Linked DNA regions of Homo sapiens: region 1 is linked to region 2. Evidence: fine-mapped expression QTL. A gene starts in region 2. The other region holds a variant in brackets. All regions are shown on one strand. Distances are from middle to middle. Region 1 has its middle 83 kb from the start of XKR4-AS1. Region 2 holds the start of CHCHD7 (coiled-coil-helix-coiled-coil-helix domain containing 7).

Region 1 (11,501 bases), 610 kb before region 2:
GGTCACACGTGCAAGGCCACACAGCCCTAGCACACAATGGGGGCTCTGTACGTCCTTCCTGAGGAAGCAGGCAAATCTCAATGTGTAGATTTAAACAGCGAGACACAGAGAAGTGAAGTGATTGAGACAAAATCAAGGAGCTCTCAGTAACAAGGCCAGGATGAAAATTCATGATCCAATCTTTGGTTTCCTCTTTGGCCCTGTCTTTAACTAACTCACCAATTCTTTACTCTAAAACCCATAGTCAGAAGAAAATGGAAACAGGACAATGCATTTCCTTTGGCATCAATTGCTTTTTTATCTCCAAGCACCATTTAGTTCTGTTTCCATAGCTCCTGGACATTGACGTTTTGATCTGAAGTAGATCTTAACTCTCTGTTCCTTTTCTAAACCAAATGCAAAGTAACAATTTCATGGCTCCGGTCTTTCTTTATCATCTGAAATAAGCCCTTGAAGACCACTGCAGTGAAGCCATGCTATTTTTTAACAATATTGTGTTTAGTGATTTGAAAACTCTTCATTGAGACAGTTTTGGCAGTGTTCATTTTTTATTTCTTTGAGCTCTAACTCATTCTCCCCCTGCTTCTGATCATTCTCATAGCTGTCTCAGGCCTCCTCCTTTGCAGGTCTTTTGTGTTTTGTAGGCATCCCACCAGATTGTTCATTTCTCTTCCTGCCTAGATGGGTTTCTGCAGCTTCTTTATACCATTGTTAAGAACACTAGTAGTTTTATTTCTATAGTTGTGTTTTCTCTAACTTTGTAAATTTTTTTGATAAATGTGGTTTTGCTTTGTCACTCTGAAATGATGAATGGACCAGGATGAGATGTTATTTCCCTAACAAAACAACTTACCTTTTTTTCCGGGATTTGTTTGGAAATCCATGAACAACATCCATAAAGCAATAAAAGAGAAATTAAATTAAGTAGTTCCACTATTTAGGCATTTTTGTTTTATTTTTATATTTATTATTCTCATTTCCAATGTGCTAAAAATTAAGTGTTTACCTGTTGCTGAAACAAAATCATTCATGATTACACTAGATTCTTTTTCACTTAATTATTATTTTTGGATTGCTAGAATCTCTCTTGAAATAAACAGGAAGTGAGGCCCAAACTTCTGCTGCAACTGGATGACACAGAGGCTTCTTATCCCAACCTGCCACCTGGACACCTTAACAGAATCAAAAGCCATGAGCATGGGGTTGTGGCCAGTTTTTATGAAGTTCTGCTGGGAGCCAACACCCTCTCTGGGAGACCATCCTGGGGAGTGGATATGTCAAGAAGGATCCCTAATTTTCTGAGATAAGGAAAACAAGAGTACTAGCAAGTTTGGTTTGGGGCAAAGGTAAATTGTTTGGCGCATGTTGAGATTGGGAGCTTGTGGGACAGCCAAGCATGGAAAGTTGAGTGTAAGAGCATGGAGTTGAGGACAGAGTTGTGGGTGGAACATATGGACATACCATCAACCATGATACAGAAGATAAGGGAAACAACAGGCAGACAGATGCCCGGAGGTGGAGCAGACCCATGACAACACTCTGAGGACCATCAATATTGCTTTGAGGAATGAATATGGAAATAAGAATAACCAATGAAAATCTAAAAGGATGAATCTGAGAAGTCGAGGTAAAATCAGAAGAAGAATGTATCAAAAAGAAAAGCAGAAGAAAGTGAGTCAAGAAAGAAGGCATTAAGAATGAAAAATGCAACAGAGAGAAAATAAGGACTGAAAAGTATCAACTGGTATTTTTATTGAAATATAATTCACATAGCATAAAATTTACTCTTTTTTTTTTGAGACACGGTCTCACTCTGTCACCCAGGCTGGAGCACAGTGGCGAGTGGCATGGTCTTGGCTCACTGCAACCTCTGCCTCCCAGGTTCAAGCAATTCTCCTGCCTCAGCCTCCTGAGTAGCTAGGATTACAGGCGTGTGCCACCACACCTGGCTAATTTTTGTATTTTTTCAGTAGAGACGGGATTTCACCATGTTGGCCAGGCTGGTCTCAAACTCCTGACCTCAAGTGATCTGCCTGCCTCTGCCTCCCAAGTGCTGGGATTATAGGGGTGAACCACCATGCTCAGCAAAATTCACTCTTTTAAAGTTTACCATTCAGTGACTTTTTCTATATTCACAATGTTGTATAACCATCACCACAATCTAATTCCTGACTATTTTCATCACTCCAAAAGAAAACCCATACCCATTTACAGTCACTTCCCATCCCCTCCCCTATCCCACCACCCCACCTCCCTGCAAAGCTGCTGGCAACCACTAATTTATTTTCTGTCTCTGGATTTGCCTGTTTGGGATATTTTATGTAAATGTAGTCATACACTATGTGACCTTTTGCATCTGGCTTCATTCCTTTAGCATATTTTCAGGATCCATCCATGTTGTAGTGTATATCAGTACTTCATTCCTTTTTATGGTTGAATAATATTCCATTGCATAACAACTTATTTTTACAGTTGTTATAGTGTATTTGCTCGGTTATATTCAAGAAGGTGTGAAACCCCTCCCGAGGGTATAAAAGAGAAAAGTAGGGAAGTTTATTCCTCTTCCCTGAGTTCTGTTTCAGCTACCTGCTACAGAAAGCTCTGCTCTCCACTGCCTACGTGGAGACGGGGTCAACAAAGCAGTTGTCAGCCATCACATCCAATAGGAGCATACATAGAGCCCATAGGAGGATTCAGAGACTTCTGAGGGCACATATCATATGTACCCTTTATGGTTTCTCATTTTTGTATTGTTTAGACATTATTCTGTCAATGGTTTTTTATTATTATTTTTTAAGTTCTAGGGTACATGTGCACAACGTGCAGGTTTGTTACATAGGTATACATGTGCCATGTTGGTTTGCTGCACTCATCAACTCGTTATTTACATTAGGTATTTCTCATAATGCTATCCCTCCCCCAGCCCCCCACCCCACAAGAGGCACCGGTGTGTGATGTTCCCCACCCTGTGTCCAAGTGTTCTCATTGTTCAATTCCCACCTATGAGTGAGAACATGCAGTGTTTGGTTTTCTGTCCTTGTGATAGTTTGCTGAGAATGATGGTTTCCAGCTTCATCTATGTCCCTGCAAAGGACATGAACTCATCCTTTTCTGTCAATGGTTTTTTTAGGTTCTTTTCAGTTTGAATTTATTACGAATAAAACTGCTATGAAAATTCAAATACATGTCTTTTTGTGGACATTTAATTTCTCTGGTAAGTACCTAACAGTAGAATTGTTGGGTCACAGATAGTGGTATGCTTAATTTTATAAGAAATTGGTGCATAGTTTTCCAAAGTCGTTGCATAATTTTTTCCTCCCACAGCAATACAGGAGTTCTAGATCCTCCAGATCCTTACCAACACTTGGTATCACTGGTTTTTAAAATTTTAGTAAAGTGGTATCTTGTTGTGGTTTTAATTTGCATTTATCTAATAACTAGTGATGTTTGATTATCTTTTTGTTTGCTTATTGAACATTTGTAGTCTTCATTTATGTATCTGTTCAAGTTTTTGGTCATTTTTTAAAAAAATAATTATCTTATTTTTGAGTTCTAGGCATGAGACCTTTGTTATACATATGCATTGTGAATATTTTCTCCCAATCTATGGTTTGCCTTTTTATTGATTTAATGGTGTCCCTTGAAGAGCAGAAATTTTTAATTTCGATAAAGTCCAATTTGTACATTTTTTTCTTTTATTCTTGGAGTGTTTTGTGTCTAAAAAATATTTGCCTATCCCAAAATGATGAAAATGTTTGCCTATCTTTTTCTCTTTGTTTAGCTTCTATATTTAGGGCAATGATACATGTCAAATTAATTTCTGTACATAGTGTGAGACATGGGTTGCAGTGCATTTCTTAAAAATTTCGTTAAACCAGCTCTAATTGCTGAAAATATTCTTTTTCCACATTTATTACTTTGGCACTACTGTTGAAAGTCAGTTGATCATATATATGTGAATCTATTTGTGGAATCCACTCTGTATGTGTATTCTAACACCAATAGTAAGGCTTGAAATCAAGTAGCTTAGATCCTTCTACTTCGTTATTCTTTTTCAAAATTATTGTGCACTTACAAACAGATGTTAGAATCAGTTTGTGAATTTCTACCTTCCCCACAAAATAAAGCATTCTGGGACTTTCAAAATCGGGATTATGTTGAATTGATGGATCAATTTGGGGAAATTTTGCATCTTATCAATATTGAGTTTTCCAAAACATGAACATGGTATACCTCTCCATGTACATAGGTCTGTTTAAATTTCTCCTAGCAACGTTTTATAATTTTCAGTATAGTGGTCTTACACATGTAATGTACATTGACTTTTGGGAGTATTTGATTCTACTATGAAAGATGAAAATGTTTGTAGTTGGTAACATTGGCAAAAACTTTAAACATTAGCAAAAACTTTTAAAGTGTTTTAAGTATAGATAGCATAATAAGCAAAATCTTTGTTAGAACAGACAATTCACAAGAGGTATTATACAAGATAAGTAGTTACAAAGTAAAGCATGTGCGTACCCAATGTAAGAAGAAAAGGATGGAAGGTGCAAAACATGCCTAACATTCATGAGGCACCAGGATACTAAATATTCATGATACACCAAATGTCATGGAGGTGTATTCAGGATACACCTCAGATAAATATTCAGGAATTATTAAATATGTATGAGACATATGCAGTGCTAAATATACAAACAGCACAAACTATTCAGGATACATTAAATATTCATGAACACTCAATATTCAAAAGGTCTTGATTTACCACCCATTAATGACATCCATTTTGGCCCCAAGAAAAACAAAACCCATGGCTGTTCAGCAAACTAATAGCAAGTTAAAACTGTGGCCAGGTTTTCTTGTGCCTGCATCTCTCCAACAGAGCAAGCATGTGTTACTAGCCCAGGACACCTTCTGTCTTTTCCCCTCTTGCTCAAACTTCAGCTCTTGTCCCTCTAATCATATCAGAGGGGAAGGCTGATTAAGCAACAGGAGAGACAGGACAAGTGAACATAGCATGGCCCAGGATCCAGACAATAT[G/T]GTTCTTCTACTTACTTGCCTCCTCACCAAAGTATATTAAAATACCCCAGATCTTTCTCCTTGATTTTTTGGTTTATGTTATTAATTAACTAAACAAAGCATGTGATTTGGGTTTTAACCTAATGTTTTAATTTGGCCTGTGAACACTTGTTTTGTGATGTCTAGGACAGCATCAGAGTCATTTCCCAAAAGACAGTATATCTTTTGCTAACTTATTCCTAAGTGTTTCCTGGGTTTTGATGCTATTATAAAAGTAGTTTGTTATTTCATTTTCCAATTACTTGGTGCCAGTACATAGAAATACAGCTAGTTTTTATACATTGATTTGTGTCCTGTGACATTGTAAAATTCACTTATTAATTCTAGAAATTATTTTGAATTTTTGTTAGATCTTTTTAAGGATTTTCTATGTATATAATTATGTTATCTGTAAAGATGGTATTACTTTTTACTTTCTAATCTATGTCTTTTTTATTTCCTGCCTTATTTCACTGTCTAGTCATTAGTTTTAAATAGAAATGAGTAGAGTGCACATCCTCACCTTGCTTCCTGTCTTAAGGGGAAAGTGTTCAATATATCACCACTAAGATGTTAGCCATATCAAATTGAGAAATATATTTTCTGCTGTGACGTGGCAGAGAACATTTCTCATGAATGGGTGTTAAATTGTATCAAGTGCCTTTTCTGCATCTATTAAAATGAGCTTGTAGCATTTCTTTTTTATTCTATTAATATGATGAGTTGATTGGTATTTTTCAGTGTTGAATCACCTTTCCATTCCACACTTCATGATGTATTATCATTTTATATATTGCTAGAGTACACATGTTAAAATTCTGTCAAGGATTTCCACCTCTAAAATCATGGAGAATATTGGTCTGTAATTTTCTTTGCTGTAGTGTGTTTGTCAGATTTTGGTATCAGGCTTGCATCATTTAAGCTGAATCTTATATGAAAAGTAGAAGTTCTTCAGGCTTATGAGGAGAGTATGAACATCCCTGACACCTTAAGAACACCTACTATATTACAGTCATCTGACTTGCAATATCTCCACCTAATTCCTCACAAAAATCCTATGAGGACTCTATTGGTATCTACCTTTAATACATGAGGAAAATGGGACGTAGAGAAGACAGGCAGTTTATCCAGTGTTACCCAGTCAATGAGGGGTGAAAGCTGGTTGTCAGACTTCAGAGCCAACATTCTCCTCCTATGACATGCTTCTTCCTCAGCTTTATCCTCCCAACAAGCCTTTGAGGCAAGTTTCTGAGGCTCAGGATGGCAAATTACCTGATCAAGTACCCAGTGTGTAGGTGTTTGACCCAGGTCCTTTTGTCTTCAGAAATAGATGACATCAAAAATAATCAGTATCTGGCCTGGTACAGTAGCTCACGTCTGTAATCCCAACAGTTTGAGAGGCCAAGGTGGGTGGATCACTTGAGGTCAGGAGTTCGAGGCCATCCTGGCCAACATGGTGAAACCCCATCTCTACTAAAAATACAAAAATTAGCAGGAGAATCGTTTGAACCTGGGAGTCAGAGGTTGCAGTGAGCCAAGATCGCACCACTGCACTCCAGCCTGGACGACAGAGCGAGTCCGCCTCAAAAAACATAAATAAATAAAAATTAGCCAGGTGTGGTGGCACATGCCTGTAATCCCAGCTACACAGGAGGCTGAGGCAGGAGAATCGCTTGAACCTGAGAGGTGGAGGTTGCAGTGAGCAGAAATCGCACCACAGCACTCCAGTCTGGGCAACAAGAGCGAAACTCCATCTCAAGAAAATAATAATAATAATAATCATTATCAAATGAAGCCCACTTCTACTCCATGCTCTAGTCAAAATAATTATTTCTTTATCAATTTATAAAAACATGTTCACATCTGTGACTTGAGTGAAATTCCAGAAACTCTTTGCACCTATTGCCACTGATACATTATGAAGGCAAAATACATCCCGGGGATGTTTTCTTAACTACATTGTTAGTACTGTAGATGGGTAAAATTAATGCAGCCGATGTCATTTCATTTTTTTTCTTTCATTATTTGTAATCATCCTGATGGTTGAGTAATACAGAGTATAGTCTAGACAGCAGCTGCAAAACATGCACACACATATACACACTCCAGAACATGTGGCTTCATTAAGGAAGTAATCAATACTCATCAGCATTCATTGCCCACTTATCACTGGGACATATTCTAGGAAGGCAGGAATTATCCTGCTCTCTCCATATCCATTTTTTGAGAAACTTCTTACTAAGCACACCAACTGAGGACATAGAAAAGGATAAAATATTACAGTAGAGTGGAAGGTCATGCCCTGTCTACTAATAGCATCAGGCTAAAAGATTCCCTACTGGGGGTAATAAAATGAAGAAAGATGAGAGGTTTATTAATTGAATCTCTTCCAGGATGTGAGTACAGCTGCCTCTTGGTGATGAACTTGACTTCTCTGTTGCCTGTGATGCTCCAAACAAAGAATGATTACTAGGTGTCACCTGGCACTAAGTTTAAAGCAGACAGTAAACCTTGATTAACCAGAAACATAAACCTATCAGAACTTTTTATAGCTTATGACTTCAGGGGAAAAGCATGGGTCATAGGGAAACTCAATTATTTTAAGATTTACTCAAAGAATGTGCGTGTCATGCCCTGGAGTCAGGGCAGACTCAACTGTATTTCCTATGCGTTGTCCAAAAGAAACCAGGGCAGGGGTCTGGATGTTATGATGTTCTCAAGGCATAACAATACTTTCAACCTCCAAAGAAAGATTTCATTTTGTTCAAAATATTAAAGTTGCTGAGTTGCTGAGGCAGAGAGGTTGAAACACACATTTTTGGATAGATGTTACAGCAACAAAAAGCATTCAGACTTTCCCATTAAGTAAGGAAATAATTTCATCAAAACATCTCAGTTCTTCCACTTTCTGCCCATTATCTCCCAAAGGAAAATAAAATGTCTATGTAGATGAAAGATTAGCAGTGCTAAGTGAGTGGTGGCCTTTATTTCACTGTGGGTAGAGCTTGTGCTGAGGAAGTCTCCTCTCTCCTCCTCCTTCTCCAGTTATCATAGTCCATCAGGACTCTGGTACCACTGCTGGTTTACAGTCAACATTTTCAATATTGCTTTGATGGAGCTGTATTGATTATATATCATCTACTTATTTGTGACAAACACCTTCTGAGCACGCACTCTGAACATAGAGAGCAAAACACAGAGAAGTTCACCATGCAAATGAGGATATAGGTTTACGGTGAGATACTCTCCAATTCACTGGGACGGGCAAGGACAGAGTACTTGGGGTGCACAGAAGTTGTGCAAATTCACAGTACCCTTGGGGTTGGGAATCAGGTGTGCTCAGGGAACATTTCATAAAAAGTCATTTGGGCTCAGAATTGGTCACCAGCCTACCCCAGCCCCACTCTCATCAGGCAAAGTCACCTTGCCTTTGTGTTCCTCAATTTCCTACTCTAGGCAGATGGTGAGATTATTTACATGCATTGTCACCCCTTTTTACCATTTTACCTCTTTTCAATGGAAATGTCTTCCTGGAATAGGAAGAATGTAGGCATGATGATGTCCCTACTGTAGTGGGGAAACCCTGCAGGCCACAGGCTAATAATACAACAATCAATGCTGGGGCTGCCTTTTGGTCAGTTTCCCTCCAGCATTAAAAGAATCCAGGAACTTAGGGACATTTCAGAGGCCTGCTTAGAGGGGACAAAACAGACAAAATAGTAACTCCTCACATTGGTCTGTAAATAGATTCACAGGATGTAAAACAGGACATGCCTTAGAAAGTTATCAGTTTCGTGGGGCCCCCTGATAAAACACAGACTCTGCCCCCATGGCGCTATCTTCTAGAAAAGCTGCATATTTTTAGTTTTAGATACTAGTTTATGCAATTTGTTAAAACCCCTGCCTTCTCGGTGTTACATAAGATTGGCTTTGGGGGTACTTCAGGGGCTCTACCAGAGGGAATCTTAAATCAATTTACATACGTGAAAGATAAATGGGAAAAAATGTATTGGAGGCACTGGTGGGAGCTGAAGTTGAGGTGAGGGTTGAGGGACAGAGGTTGGTATCATTCCATTGTCAGGACATTTGCACTTACTGTTCCCATTTCCTGTGGTGCCCTTCTCTTGGGTCTCATCAAGGCTGGTGCCTTCATACCCTGGGATTCACCTTAAATGGTACTGATATGAACAGGAGGCAGCGAAATACAGGGTAGAAGAGGAGGGTTCCCTGGCAAAGGCCCTACCCTCAAGCCTGGAAACCCATGGCCCTAAATGAGAACAGACATTCCTGTTTTCATGCCCAAATATTCCCTTTTGGCCCACCACACCCCTTATGCTGTACCCATACAAACCTCAAACCCAAGGCTCCACAAGCAGAAGAGTGGCAGAGTGGCAGAGTGGCAGAGAAGGAGAGAAGGGAAGGAGCATCTGAACATTGAGAGGAGTTTGGCTGGGGAAGGTCAGAGAGGAGTTTGGCCACAAGACAGCCAAACTCCAGGGAAAAATCATCTTCCCACTCCATCCGCTTTCCAGCTCCCCACCCATCCAGCTGAAAGCCACCTCCATAACTCAATAAAATTCCTGCATTCACCATCCTTCAAGTTGGTTTGACCTGATTCTTCCTGGACTCCATAAAAGGACCTGGGTACCAAGAGGGCAGGGTATAAAAAGATGTCACCCTGACTCTCCACTGAGCTTGTTAACACTTAGCTGTACACAGATGGCAACTGCTGAAAGAGCATTAATTGTAACACACCCCTAGATGCTACCGTCAGGCTGGAACCCAAAAGCACTCAATGTGGCTCCTGCAGCTGCCTGTGTGCATGCTCCCCCTTCCATAAGAGGTTTGATCAAAGGGTCCATACCCCTGTCACAAGACCCCTGAGGGGATCAAGGAACTCTCTCATCTCAGTACCTCCTCAAAGGAGCCTTCCCTTACCATCACCATACGAGTTAGGTTACAAAAATAGCCTTCCCTGACTACCAGCACTCTCCCTGTATCCAGAAATTATTCCTTCCCAGCACCTTGTGTCAACCACATCATTATTGTATAATGATCTTGATTGAGGGGGCTAAGTTGCTTTTGCTGTGTGTCTCCCATTAGATTGTAAATTCCATGGGGTCAGGCATATTATCAGTCTCCTTCACTGCTAAAAGCCAGTATCTTGTAAAGTGCCTGGCACATGGTAGAGACTGAATCAGTACTTGACAAATGAGCATGTATTAGTGTGTTCTCACAATGCTATAAAGAACTACCTGAGGCTGGCATGGTGGCTCACACCTGTAATCCCAACACTTTGGGAGGCCCAGGTAGGTGGATTGCTTGAGGCCAGGAGTTTGAGACCAGCCTGGCCAACATGGTAAAATCCCATCTTTTAAAAAAATAATTTAAATAAAAATTTTTAAGAAGAACTACCTGAGACTGGTCAATTTACAAAGAAAAGAGGTTTAACTGGCCCATGGTTCTGCAGGCTGTATAGGAAACATGGCAGGGAGGCCACAGGAAACTTGCAATCATGGTGGAAGGTGAAGGGGAAGCAGGCATGTCTTACATAGCTGGCAGGAGGAATGGGGAGGGGTGCTACATACTTTTTAAACAACCAGATCTTGGCAAAACTTTATCATAAGAGAGCACTAGGGCAATGGTGCTAAACCATTAGACACAGCCCCCATGATGCAATCGCCTCCCACCAGGCCACTCCTCCAACACTGGGGATTATAATTCAACATGAAATTTGGGCAAGGACACAAATCCAAACTATAACAGAGTATCAGTTCAAGGAAACAGTCCAGGGCTTGGGAGGAGAAGATTTAGGGCCCTGTCCAGCATGGTGAAGCTGGCACAGCAAACTGAGTTCATTTCACATAAATGGATTTCTAAACCAAAATGTAACTCCATCACTCACTGCTCTTTATGCTCCGAAATAAAGATGACATAAATGTTAGCCAAAAGGAGCAATGCAAGACATTGTTCAAACTGGTGTTTTGAAGAGGAAGTGAGGCCCTTTCTTCATACACATTTCATCTCTACTGGTTGGTTACAGCTACTGAACCCATGTTTTTATTTTTGTAGAACATTTAATGATAACCTGAGTCTGCTAAGTACAATATAAATACAAAATTATACTGAATCTAAGGGATGAGACGATTATTATAATTTAAGAACCATGATAAAATAAAATGAACATGGCATTAAAGAACTACAACTGAAGTTATTTTAGAGATAATACCACTGGGACTAATGAAGGTTAAACTTTAATTCTGTTAGAAGGACAACTTTTGAAACCCTGGAGCAAACACTTATCTATTAATACACACATTGCTGAAGGGAGTGAAATACAGTTAAAGGGGCCTTCCTTTAAGAAGATACAAGTGTTGCCTTACACTTGAAAATAAGAGCTCCCAAAAAGCTTCCTTTTGTCAGTCTCCTCTTTGGTGCAAGCA
Region 2 (11,501 bases):
CCCTTCAAATTTTAAAACTATACTGATAAAGCAAATTCACTAATTTATTTTGCTATAAATATCTATTTACTATTTACTAAAATATTTTGGTAATAATATACAGATATAGAATGTGTCAATATTAGCCCACACTTATAAATCTTCCACAGCAGATAAATTCTTTATAGAATTTCAAGTAGCAAAAGTAGGCATATAAATTTCAAATAAGACTATCAATATATGAGGTTTCTCCGATTCCAACTGAAATAAAGATTTTGACTACACAATATCATGACATTATTTCTGTATACTGGTATAATTTAATAGCTTCAGAAAAGGATGTTCAACAGGTAGTATTTCTAAGGCATCACAAAAGCTCAGTACAATCACTTCAAATTAAATATTGTGCTGTGCCCCATCTAAATAAGACTCTCTAAGCGATTACAGATTTTAGATTGGTGCACTCTGAGTGCGTTTTCTGAACAGACAAGTAGCTAGTTGCATAAAATACAAACATGAAGAAAGTTTTACACCACCCTATATGAGAGGAAGAAAAAAAATCACAATACCAGCACTTTTATTTAGATTGACAATAAACCAGTCATAGTGTCCAAACAACCTGAATAACACGATAATCTAATATAACTTGAATTCCTTCATTTTTTTATAGAGATTGAATTTATTGATATTAGTATCTGGTTTGTCAAAGTGGCAATTATTCAAGATCTAAGTCTCATTTATTTTAAATGCACAGCATAATTCTGACTACTTATAGTCAATGTAACTGTCTTGAGCCAAAATACAATGAAAACGTAAGATAAAATGAAAAGGCTTTGTAAGTCTTAATGGCATTCTGAAACCTCTGGACAGAAGATCATTGGGCATGGAGGAGTTTCCCTTCTCTATTGATAGCTTAATCCTTTTCCAATCAATTTTGATTTAACTGTGGGTGATGAGATTAATCTTTTAATGAGTTCTTAGAAAGTTGTAATTGCTTCCAAAATCAGAAACCACAAGATGATGTACTCAAACACGTTACTGATGTGATGTTGTATAGAGGTATTTACAGAAAGTTGGAAGAACTCAGTTGTAAACACAAGTTAACATACAATAGACTACAAAAATAATAACTTGTTTATACAGTAGGGCAAGAAAAAACATTCTATATAAGAAGTCTAAAAATTCAGCTCTAATTTTAATCCATGTCTATAAATAATAAAAACAAGAGGAAATAAGGATTTATTTCAGAAACTCCATATACCTGTGGAAAATGGAACACAAGTAATTTCTACTGAAGATTAACCTTAATCCCCATTATAGTACAGCTAACAATTTACACATTTTAAATTTTGAAAATATCGTGGAAATCTAAAACATAAGAGCCGATAGTAGTTTATGGTCAGTAAACACTTTCTGTTAAATAACACAAATAAATTCAACTTAGAAAATGAAAACTCACAGGGCTCAGGATTTTAAAAATCTTTTCATTTCAAAGGCGCAAAGTTACAACCCATGCATAGGATGGACTTTAAAAATGGATGTGTAAACTTTTCCATGGTGTTGGTGTGTGTGCTTTCCTTCCCCCTAAAGAAATGCCTACTGCTTACAATTTTAAAGAATCTTCACCACTCTGTAATTTTCAACCAGAAGTCCTCAATGTACCTTAAGCCAAATTGAATATTAAGGTATTTTACAGTTTTTACAAAATGGCTGTAAAATCACATTATGGGCATACACAGCTCTTTGATCTCACTGCACAGAATTCATAACTGTTCAATAATGCTATACCATTACACCACACACCTTAAACTATTTCCATTTTTCCACAATTCCTTCCAAAATCAGCTTCCAAAGCAAAGCAATGTAACATGAAAAGTTCCTGGGAGGGCTTGTTACACAAAGGAACAGTTTGGATACAAACTATACACATATCCATCTTCGGTTGAGGCTGTTTATCCCTCCTGTCCCTCCATCACTCCTATGGGTGGGTGCACTGGAGTAACAGAAAGGGAAGGCTCTTCCATCACCACACCCTCCCAGCACCTCTGCTTTTGGTCCTCAGACAGTGATTCTGTGTAGGTGATGAAAACCATAAGAAAAGAGAAGCTGTCCCTTTAAAATGCCCTGCTCTGTCCCATATCCCACGTGGAACCAACATCAGCAGCACTTTCCCATTAACATCAATGTGATGCAAGAGACATCATCCTTTTATACACATAAAACCAGAAAACCTCAGCTTAACATTCTTTAGGAAGGATGAACAGGTGAAGCAAACATGTCAGGAAGGGGGAAACCAAGCAACTCCACATCCCTCCCCAAAAGGTACTCCAGCCTTGCACTCCAGCCTCTCTGAGCACCATCACCTCTCTATCCCTCCTCTGCAGAGCCCAGTTTAAAGAAAGGAGGGAGCCACTAACAAAACCTGAAGCATAAATGCGACGAAAATGCAATCTAAAGCCGGAAAGGTTCATTCTTCCAATCACACATATTAACTCTATTAAGAAAATGGCATCACTTTTTTTTCCACCCAAAAAAACCCCGCAAAGATCATTAAAAGAGAGTTATAAAATAGCAAATATAGTGTTTATCTTATCTGAGATCAGTCCACATTACCAATAAGTTTAGCAGTTTCTGCACTACCACCTCCCCCCTCGCTCCCCCTGCTTCTCTTGCATCGGATTTTCACGTTTTCTCATTGTCGGTTGAGTTATAAAAGGCTTTTGCCCTTCGAAAGTTTTAAAAAATAAATAAATATTAACTCCTTGGTCCCTGCAAAGTCAAAATGGACTTCAGGGGAAAGGCGGTACATACTTTTACCTTTAGCGAGAAAAGGGGGAGCATCCCGGATTTTTAGGGATTTTTTGCGATTTTTTAAAAATTTTTATTTGGTTATATGCCTGAGTTCTCCCTCCATTTTGGTTGTTTATGATACTGACAACAAGCTGTCCCTGCTCTGTGCCGATCTCCTGCTTTCATTTAGCACCCCCTCCCCCTACCCCCCCTCGCAGCCACACACCCCGGGCTCACACCTCCCTGCAGACCCCGCACCCCGACCCCGGCTTGCCCACCTGAGGAAAGGGCAAAAACAAATTCATTTCTCCAGAAAAGAAAAACCTCTTTTGAAAAAGGGGCAAAGTTACCCCAAGTCACTCAAAGTGCCCCCCAAATATTGCCGACTGCGGGTTTCCGCCAGGCCCTTTGGGAAGCGACCTTCCCCCGGGATGTTTTGGTGGAAAATGCGGAGAGTTTACTCTCAAAACTGAATTTATATTAATTTTTCCCTTATTTTTCGGGTCTCTAATGTCTTCCGCTCTCGCTGCTGCCGCTGCCGCTGTCACAATATTCACAGCACCAGAGAGGAGGAGGAGGAGGAGGAGGAGGAAAACTTTTCAAACTTTCCAGACCCTGAATAAAGGTTTTTTTTTTTTTCCCACCGACCTCACCTTCGGGTCCCCAGCCGCATCGCCCCCTGCCCTGTCAGAAGCGACTTCGGGAGTCCTCGCAGCCCCGCGTAATTATTTTATTTTATTTTTTATTATTATTTTTCTCTCTGGGGTCCTGAGCAGGGGCTGAGAGTAGCACAAACTTTTCCTCCTCCTGCCGCCGCCGCTGCTCCTCTGCCCCCTCGGCTAGTCCCATAATTTAAATAACCCTGATATTTCTCCCGCTAAACGCCTCGCCGCCGCCCCGGACCCCCGGAGAACTCACCGCGGGGCTTTAACATCCTCCCTCCGGCCCGTCCGCCGCCTCTACACCGCCCGCGGAATTTCTAATAATTTTTTTCTCATATTTCGGGCTGGACGCGGCGGGCCTGGAAATTGTTTCCTTACGCCTCTTTCCAGCAGCCATTGTAGTGTATGCGCTGCCCCTGCAGCCCAACTTGCAGCTGCCGCCGCCGCCGCCGCCGCCGCCGCCGACGTCGCGCCCACCGCTGCCTCCCCCTGCCTGTTCGGCCACCGCCCCCGCCTCCCGTCGGCCCGCCCCCAAACCCCGCCCGCCGCTGCGCCCGCCCCCCGCGCGCGCTCCGCCCGAGAGCTGGCCACTCGGAGCCGCCGCTGGCGGGAGTTGGCCCGCCCATTGGGCCGCGACGCCGCCCGTCAAGCCGAAGTGTTAAGAGACGGGCCGCGGCTGGGGGGCGCGGTGGGGCGGGGGAAGAGGGGGCGGGGTCGCGCTCACCGCCCCGCCCACTCCTCCCGCCTCGGCCCTCCTTTCGCCAGGCGGGGGCGGGGCGAGGCCCGACCGCCCCTGCGGCCCAGGGCCCCGCGCGGCTGTCAGTCTGGCGGCGGCGCGCGCCGATTGGGCGGGCTGCCGCCGGGGAGCGGGGGCAGCAAGTTGGGATGCGCGCTACTTAAGGTCCTGCTGCGTGAGCCATTGACGTGTTTGGAGCTGGAGACGGCCTGGGTGCTGGCGAAGCGGAGGCCGGAGGTGAGTGGTTCCCCCGCCCTACCTCCGAAGCGGCCGCAGAAAAGCGGGGAGAGAGGGGTGCCCTTGGGCCGTAGCGGGGCCCGAATGCACTTCTGCGGCGCGGAGGCGCTCCCGCCAGGCTTCGCCGCAGCGCGGACCTCTTCCCGTTGCTCTTCCTCCCGCCACACGGGTCTGTTCGCTCCGGGGGCGAGGAAGATGACCTCTGCCTAGTCCGGGCAACCCCAGCTCTTCTTCCACTCTCCTGTGTAGCCTCTGAAGCGCAGTTACCGGCCCCACCCCCAGTTCCCTGCGTTTTCCTCGCCCCTTGTCTCTCTCGGCATGGTCTCGGCACAGCAAGGTGTGTTCACCTGTGCGCGCCGTCCAGGATCAGATGCTGACGGGCTACACCGCGGAAGGCGGCGAGGCCTCGGGTTCGCCCTTCGTTTCTCCTTGCCCTGCGCGCCCACCTCCGGCAGGCCACCCTTGACTTCTTGCCCCCTTCCACTTTGCACCTGGCAGTGGGTTAACGGCACGGCGTGTGCAGCTTCCGGGTTTAGCAGAGCCGCGGACCCTGCCTGGGCTCCGACCACGGGGCGTGTGGGCATGAACGTGTTCAGAAACGTTTCCTTCCCCCTGCCCTTTCAAAGCTACTTAGAGAGGGGGGACGTGAACCACTGGATGGGAAATCAGGAACTGCTTTATTAAGCAGTTTGCCCTTTGGAGTGGATTTTAGAGTTATCCCCTGAATGTGCTATGGTTTTGTGGCCCCTCCTTCATATCTTTGCTTGGTTTTTCTTTCTGGTTATGCTCTGCAAGTAGTAGAGCCTTGTAACATTTATTTAGTACATTCAAAAAGTAATAGACAAGGCCCCTTTAGCGGAGCACTCGATGTTGTAATTCAGCCCCGCTCCTCACTGTAAATTGACATTTCCTCTTCAATTCCAGTTAATACACGAGGAACTCATGCAAAGGAGGGGACTTTCGGAAATCCAAACTTAGAGTGCCTTGTATTTAGAATCCGGAAGGAAAAGGAAATGAAATGTGAAGAAACTCATGCACCAAACTCGAACTGGGTATATGTGATGTTACCTAGGTATTATTTTTGAAGAATTTCTGACTGACAATAAAATATAGAGTAGGATACTTTCATGTAAGGCACGAAACTTAAATTTAATGCAAGGTTGTCTGATCCTTGTTGAGATTATTAAATCTAAGGTGTATGAAGAGTTCTGTGTTCTCACATCATAGGATAGGTGTAAAAAAGAAAGCTGTGAATTTATTTACTATCATCATCTCTCTTAGGAAGAAGGGAAGTGTGGAAAAAAATTGTCTTCAGGAGAGGAAGAAGCTTGTAGATATAATTGAACAGCATCTTGATTTCTTTTTTGCCAAGATGTTACTGTTGGCTGGTTATTTTCTTGTATTGTTCAATGAAAATCATAAAATTATTATTCAGTGATTACTTAATGGACACCAGAATAACCAAACCCTTTTCCATTCTTTTTTTTGCAAAGGCTGGTCTCCTTTGGCCTGGACGTCCTGATCTTTCCCATAGTAGAACTGGGCTGGGTGTCTCTTTTTTTTTTTTTTGAGACGGCGTCTTCCACTGCTGTCGCTTGGGCTGGAGTGCAGTGGCGCGATCTCGGCTCACTGCAACCTCTGCTTCCCAAGTTCAGGCGATTCTCTTGCCTCAGCCTCCTGAGTAGTTGGGATTACAGGCGCGTGCCACCACGCTCAGCTAATTTTTGTATTTTTAGTAGACAGGGGGTTTCACCATGTTGGCCAGGCTGGTCTTGAACTCCTGACCTCGTGATCCGCCCGACTCGGCCTCCTAAACTTTTGCAAAGCTGTATCTCTAGGAATTGAATTGGAAGATTACTGAAGCACAGTAGCATTCCCTGACTTCCTGCAACGCAGGGAAATAGTTAAAAAGAAGATGCCACTGGAAGTAAAATTTCAACTCTTTTGTTTTTGAAACAGTATAGCTTTTCATAATGTCAACTAAGCAATAACTTGGCTTTTTGGTGTGTTGGCTACCCTACTATTGGCCATAAAATAGGCACTCTGGTACTTCAGTTGATGAATGTTTTTGCTAAAGTTGGACTGTACCGAATTTCATTCTTATTTTGTACGCTAATTGGTGTAAAATAAGGAAGTAATTGTTGGAATGCATACTGTATTCTTAGGTTTTATTAGTACATTTGGTTGCTTAAACTTAAGAATAAGAGTAAACAACAACTGAATTATAATTGAACTATCTTTCTTTTTCGTTTTTTTGAGACAGGGTCTCTCTCTGTCACCCAGGCTGGAGTGCACTGGTGCAATCACAGCTCTCTGCAGCCTTGACTTCCTGGGCTATCCCACCTTACTTAGCCTTCCAAGTAGCTGGGACCACAGGCACACGGCACGACACCAGGCTAATTTTTGTATTTTTGGTAGAAATGGGGTTTCTCTGTGTCGCCTAGGTTGATCTCGAACTGCTGAGCTTAAGCAGCCCTCTCGCTCCAGCCTCCCAAAGTGCTGGGATTACAGGCGTGAGACACCGCACCCAGCCAGTAGATGCATTTCAATCCAATATATGGCCTTTGTGTTGAGGCATGGCAATACAAAGGAAAAACACGTTCAAGTTTTTATTCACAAAGTACAGAGAATACATGAAGTTCCTCACTAAGTGATCATTATGCCAAAATCAAAATTTCAGGTACTTTTAGTGCTATTGAGATGTATTGATTTATTTTCTGTCAACTACTGTATAATTATTTTTTTTCTGTCTACCCTCAGTAAGAAGACTGTTAGAATGCCCTCGGTAACACAGAGGCTGAGAGATCCTGACATAAATCCTTGTTTGTCGGTAGGATGGTTTGCTTTAATTTTCATGAGTGTTAAGTTGGAAAAACAGGCTGCTCTAGTTTTGTGGGCCTTTGTTTTCTGCAGTTGTTGAATAAAGTTATTTCTCTAGAAAAAATATTGTTGGCCAGCATATCCTATTTAACTAGAGCATTTTTAGATGTTTATAATTTCTCTAACAAACATTCATCTTTTCTTTAGTTTTCCTTATTTGTATAATATGCAAGCATTTGGTTGTCACTGTAAAACTAGACAGGAAAATGTAACACTGAGAATATTTAGTCCAAACATGGAAAACTGGAAGGTATGATATTTTTAAACTGTCACTGACATTTATTGTTTCACTAGCAATAATATCACCATGTCCTTGACAACCTGGCTGAGAGTAATGGGCTGATAATATAATTAGCCTATTTAAAGCTTAAAGGTTTTCACAAAGGTATCTGATAAACAAAATGTTTTAAGAGTAAGCTTTTATTGGCATTTATTTGGTATGATTTGCGATACTTACTTGTGGCTTTGCTACGTTTGAATAATGTAGTTATCATACTGGTCCCATGAAAATTATACTCTTTAGTTATATGCATTTTCCAAATATATACATTCATTAAATATTTGGCACAGAAATTCAGCTTTGTTCTGTTTACGTAGAACATGTTTCTTAGATATGTGTTGCAAACTGTCTACCCATATAGCTAAAGCTTTCCTTTAGATCTGTGTTCCCCAACCTTTTGGGCACCAAGGACCGGTTTTGTGGAAGACAATTTTTCCACGGATGGGGAAGGGGGCGGGCGTCAAAAGGCATTAGATTCTCCTAAGGAGCTTGCAGCCTAGATCCCTCACATGCACGCAGTTCACAATAGGGTTCGTGATATTAGATCCCACAATAGGGATCTAATAGCATTAGATGAGAATCTAATGCTGCCACTGATGTGACAGGAAGGGGAGCTCAGGCGGTAAGGCTCACTTGCCCATTGCTCATCTCCTGCTATCTGGCCGGGTTCCTAACAGACCGAAGACCAGTACCACTTTGTGGCCTGGGGGTTGGGGACCCCTGCTTTAGGTGACCTCACAGAATCATACCTTTCACTTTTAAGTTTGTTATTCAATCTACTTCCAGTTCACACAGCTTAAATTTAATCCCCATGTGGCACCTACTTTCCTTTGAATTTATAGCTTGTGTTGTTGACTTCGGTTTTGAAGTAATATCTATTAAAATTGCTTATATAATAGTGTATTTGTATAATGGAGTAAATGGTAGCCAAAAATGCATTGAGATGAATGGTGTTAATTTAGGTTGTCTTGTTGTAGACCAGTTATTAGTGATTTACTTGGAATCTTGAAACCAATATTATGATCAAACATTGAAGCCAAAGTGAAAATCTGGAAAAACAGGAGAGATGTACTGTGAGTCAGGAGATGGATTCTGATTCTAGTTGTGCAGTAGTCATTTAACACATTGCACCTTGCCTCAGTTTCTTACTAAAATGGTTACTGGATTAATTGATCACAGTTATTTGGCTCAAATTCCTGTGATCACATATTCAGAAAACTGGCCCACATTATAAAAAGGAAGATGTTAGCCTGAGCAGAGTGCATACTGGGATAGCTGGCGAGATTGTCCAGTTTTTATTAGTCTACCCATCAAAATGAACACAAATGAACTATTTCACATTATTTGCTTCTGGGGAAGCAGCTTTTGTTTGTTTGTTTGTTTGCTTTTAGATCCTGTTCTACCTTTTAAATGATGCCTCTCTTATATCTGTAAGGAATCTGATGCTTCCACCAGATGTCTGGATGAAAATAACTATGACAGGGAAAGGTGTTCCACTTACTTCTTGAGGTACAAAAACTGCCGGAGATTCTGGGTAAGCCTAGATTGGTTAGCTTTGTGTTAAAACCCATCTCCTAGGGTTGAAACTGAAGCCTAAAATTAGTCAGTACCCACAATCCTTTCCCACTGATGGCTGTAGGGAAACTTAACTTTTCAACTTTATCCTCTGTGTGCTACTTTAGCCGTGAAAGATCCTTGAGAGCTCTTGTTAGCTGCCTCGTCGTCCTCTAAGCTATAAGAATGCAGTTTTAATATAGGTGGGTCTTCTTAGACATTTAAGTATCTGCAGCCCTAAAACAATGTCTTTGTTATAAATTTAGTTTTCCTGGAGATGAACAGAATGTTTAACTTCCCTTGTCATAACACATCATGTTAGGCTTCAATTTCTGCCTTTTTCTCTCTCACTGCCATCCGTGGAAGTTAAAATGGTCCATTTTTCTGAAAACATTGGTATATAATTTCTGTTTCCTTGAACCACGGGATCCAGCTATTTCCTTTCGCTTTGCTAAATGCACTGTTGGTTTTATTTCACGATTATTCAGTAGCTCTTCTTGACAGACTGTATATACTTTTGTACTTTGTACTTTGTATATTCTCATCCCAATTGCTGTTAATGTATTCCTGTGGGAATGAGTACTTCTATTTAATTGTTACTAATTTAAATACGTTTATCTGGAGTCCTATAATTAGGTTTTGGGATTTTTTTTTTAAAAAAAACTTGGTTTTTAGAATTTCCTTTTTGAGGAAGCAATAGCAAATTACTGGCAAATGATTAGCATTTAATACATGACTGATTTTGGTTTCTTCTTTTTTATTTTAATGCCTGTACACAGAATTCTATCGTGATGCAGAGAAGAAAGAACGGAGTGAAGCCATTTATGCCTACGGCAGCAGAAAGAGATGAAATCTTGAGAGCAGTGGGAAATATGCCCTATTGAATGTTTGCATTAAAAGTGTTTATATAACTTAGAAGCAGATGAATATTTCTAATAAATGATTGCTGTAATATTTAAGACTGTACACCCCTCACCCAGACAGACCTTAAGTTCTTCAAGTGGAGACAGTGAAGTCACCCCGTGTCCTTTTTGCTTGCTCTCAGTGCCATGCCGATGGTATGTTGCTGTTGGCTGTGTTGTGGCATGAGTTTGCATGACTTTCTGGAGGCATGGAGTTAGGTAAGGCTACATGAGAAATTGAGCTTTTCCACTGGGTTTTGAAAGAAGAGTATGATGTGAACAAGTAAAGACTGAATGGGGCTGAGATGAAGGCAATGTTTCCAAGGAAAGGAAATGTTATGAGCAAGAGTGTGAGGCAAGAGAAGCTGGAACCACATTCAGAGAGTATCCTGTAGATTGCTCCACCTAGAATCTCAGGTGGGTGGAGCAGTGGTGGGAGAAGACTGGAAAGGTAAGTTGAAGGTAAGGAATGTGTGGTGGGCCTCAGATCCCAGGCTCATTCCTCAAATCACTTCTTACTTCCCTCACTTATCTTTGTTTAAATAAGGTTAGTACATTCACTAGGGGCAAATGGGTTTTTCTAAATAAATGACATAAAAAAGAACTGGTTGTCTTTCTTTAAAGAAAGTCTTAGTTACAGGATTCTGTGATTAAAATCCTTAAATATTGGGTTGCCTTCTGCAGCTGTAGTATCAGTTTTTGAACCACAGTAATGGGAAGAAAGACAAATGGATTCCCTTAGAAGTAAGATTTCTATTTGCAGGATGAGTTGGGCAGGGAAAAGGGTCAGGGTTCATCAGGTGAACTCAACACTGGGATGAGACTAGAACTTCACTTTATGATATAAACACAATACGATTATTCAATGTGGTGACTGGGGTAGACTGTGAAGCAGCCCTCCTTATGCCCACTGCCTTTTAGAATCGTTTGTTTTATTCATGGTAGTTTTATGAAGACATACTATTATTGAATGAAATTTAATGTGTACTTGAAAACATTGCTTTTGTCCCTTCTCTTCATCTGGTCTTGGGTCAAGAACATTGTTTTAATGGCTGCCGACAATGAACTGTCTGTCTGAGTCTAAAACCAAGCTCAGGTTTCTAAGCCACATGACCTTGATTGTTAAATGTAGTTATATTTGAATAAAAAATGAATCATTTCCAAAATTCTTTTGATTTGTATTGACTGCTATAAAAATGATGGATTAAAATAGGACCAGAAAAGAATGAATGCCTACCTGTGTAAGAAGTATTTTTGTATTTTTAAGCACACTTGTTAAAGGGCTTGGAATTTTAATGTCACTCCTTTGAAGGTACATACCAATATCAACATTCATCTTGTAACTAGTTGTCCTGATGCCACTCTTGTTGAGTCTTTATTTTCAGTACCTTTGCCTTATTGCTGAGCACTTCAGGTAAAGACTTGGACACCTGCCTTCCCACCAGGCCCTCGTGCCCGCTGGGCCTCTGGGTTGAGGTTGA

What was found. PIP is the estimated chance that this variant, and not a neighbour inherited with it, causes the effect.
Region 1: its variant is fine-mapped to the expression of CHCHD7 in whole blood (TOPMed, PIP above 0.99).

The regions. Positions count from the first base shown.
Region 1 is chr8:55,598,269-55,609,769 of GRCh38, forward strand. No RefSeq gene overlaps it. Among named protein-coding and RNA genes, the nearest start is that of XKR4-AS1, 83 kb to the left of the region's middle. The variant G/T (reference allele first, on the strand shown) is at 5,041.
Region 2 is chr8:56,207,434-56,218,934 of GRCh38, forward strand. CHCHD7 (coiled-coil-helix-coiled-coil-helix domain containing 7) reads left to right here and starts at 4,356. Exons shown (of 4, transcript NM_001011671.3): 1 at 4,356-4,404; 2 at 7,165-7,234; 3 at 9,000-9,098; 4 at 9,898-11,376. The coding sequence starts at 7,181. The coding sequence ends at 10,002. PLAG1 (PLAG1 zinc finger) reads right to left here and starts at 3,840. Exons shown (of 5, transcript NM_002655.3): 1 at 3,688-3,840. RefSeq lists silencers at 3,825-4,384, 4,227-4,452 and enhancers at 4,465-4,534, 6,105-6,604.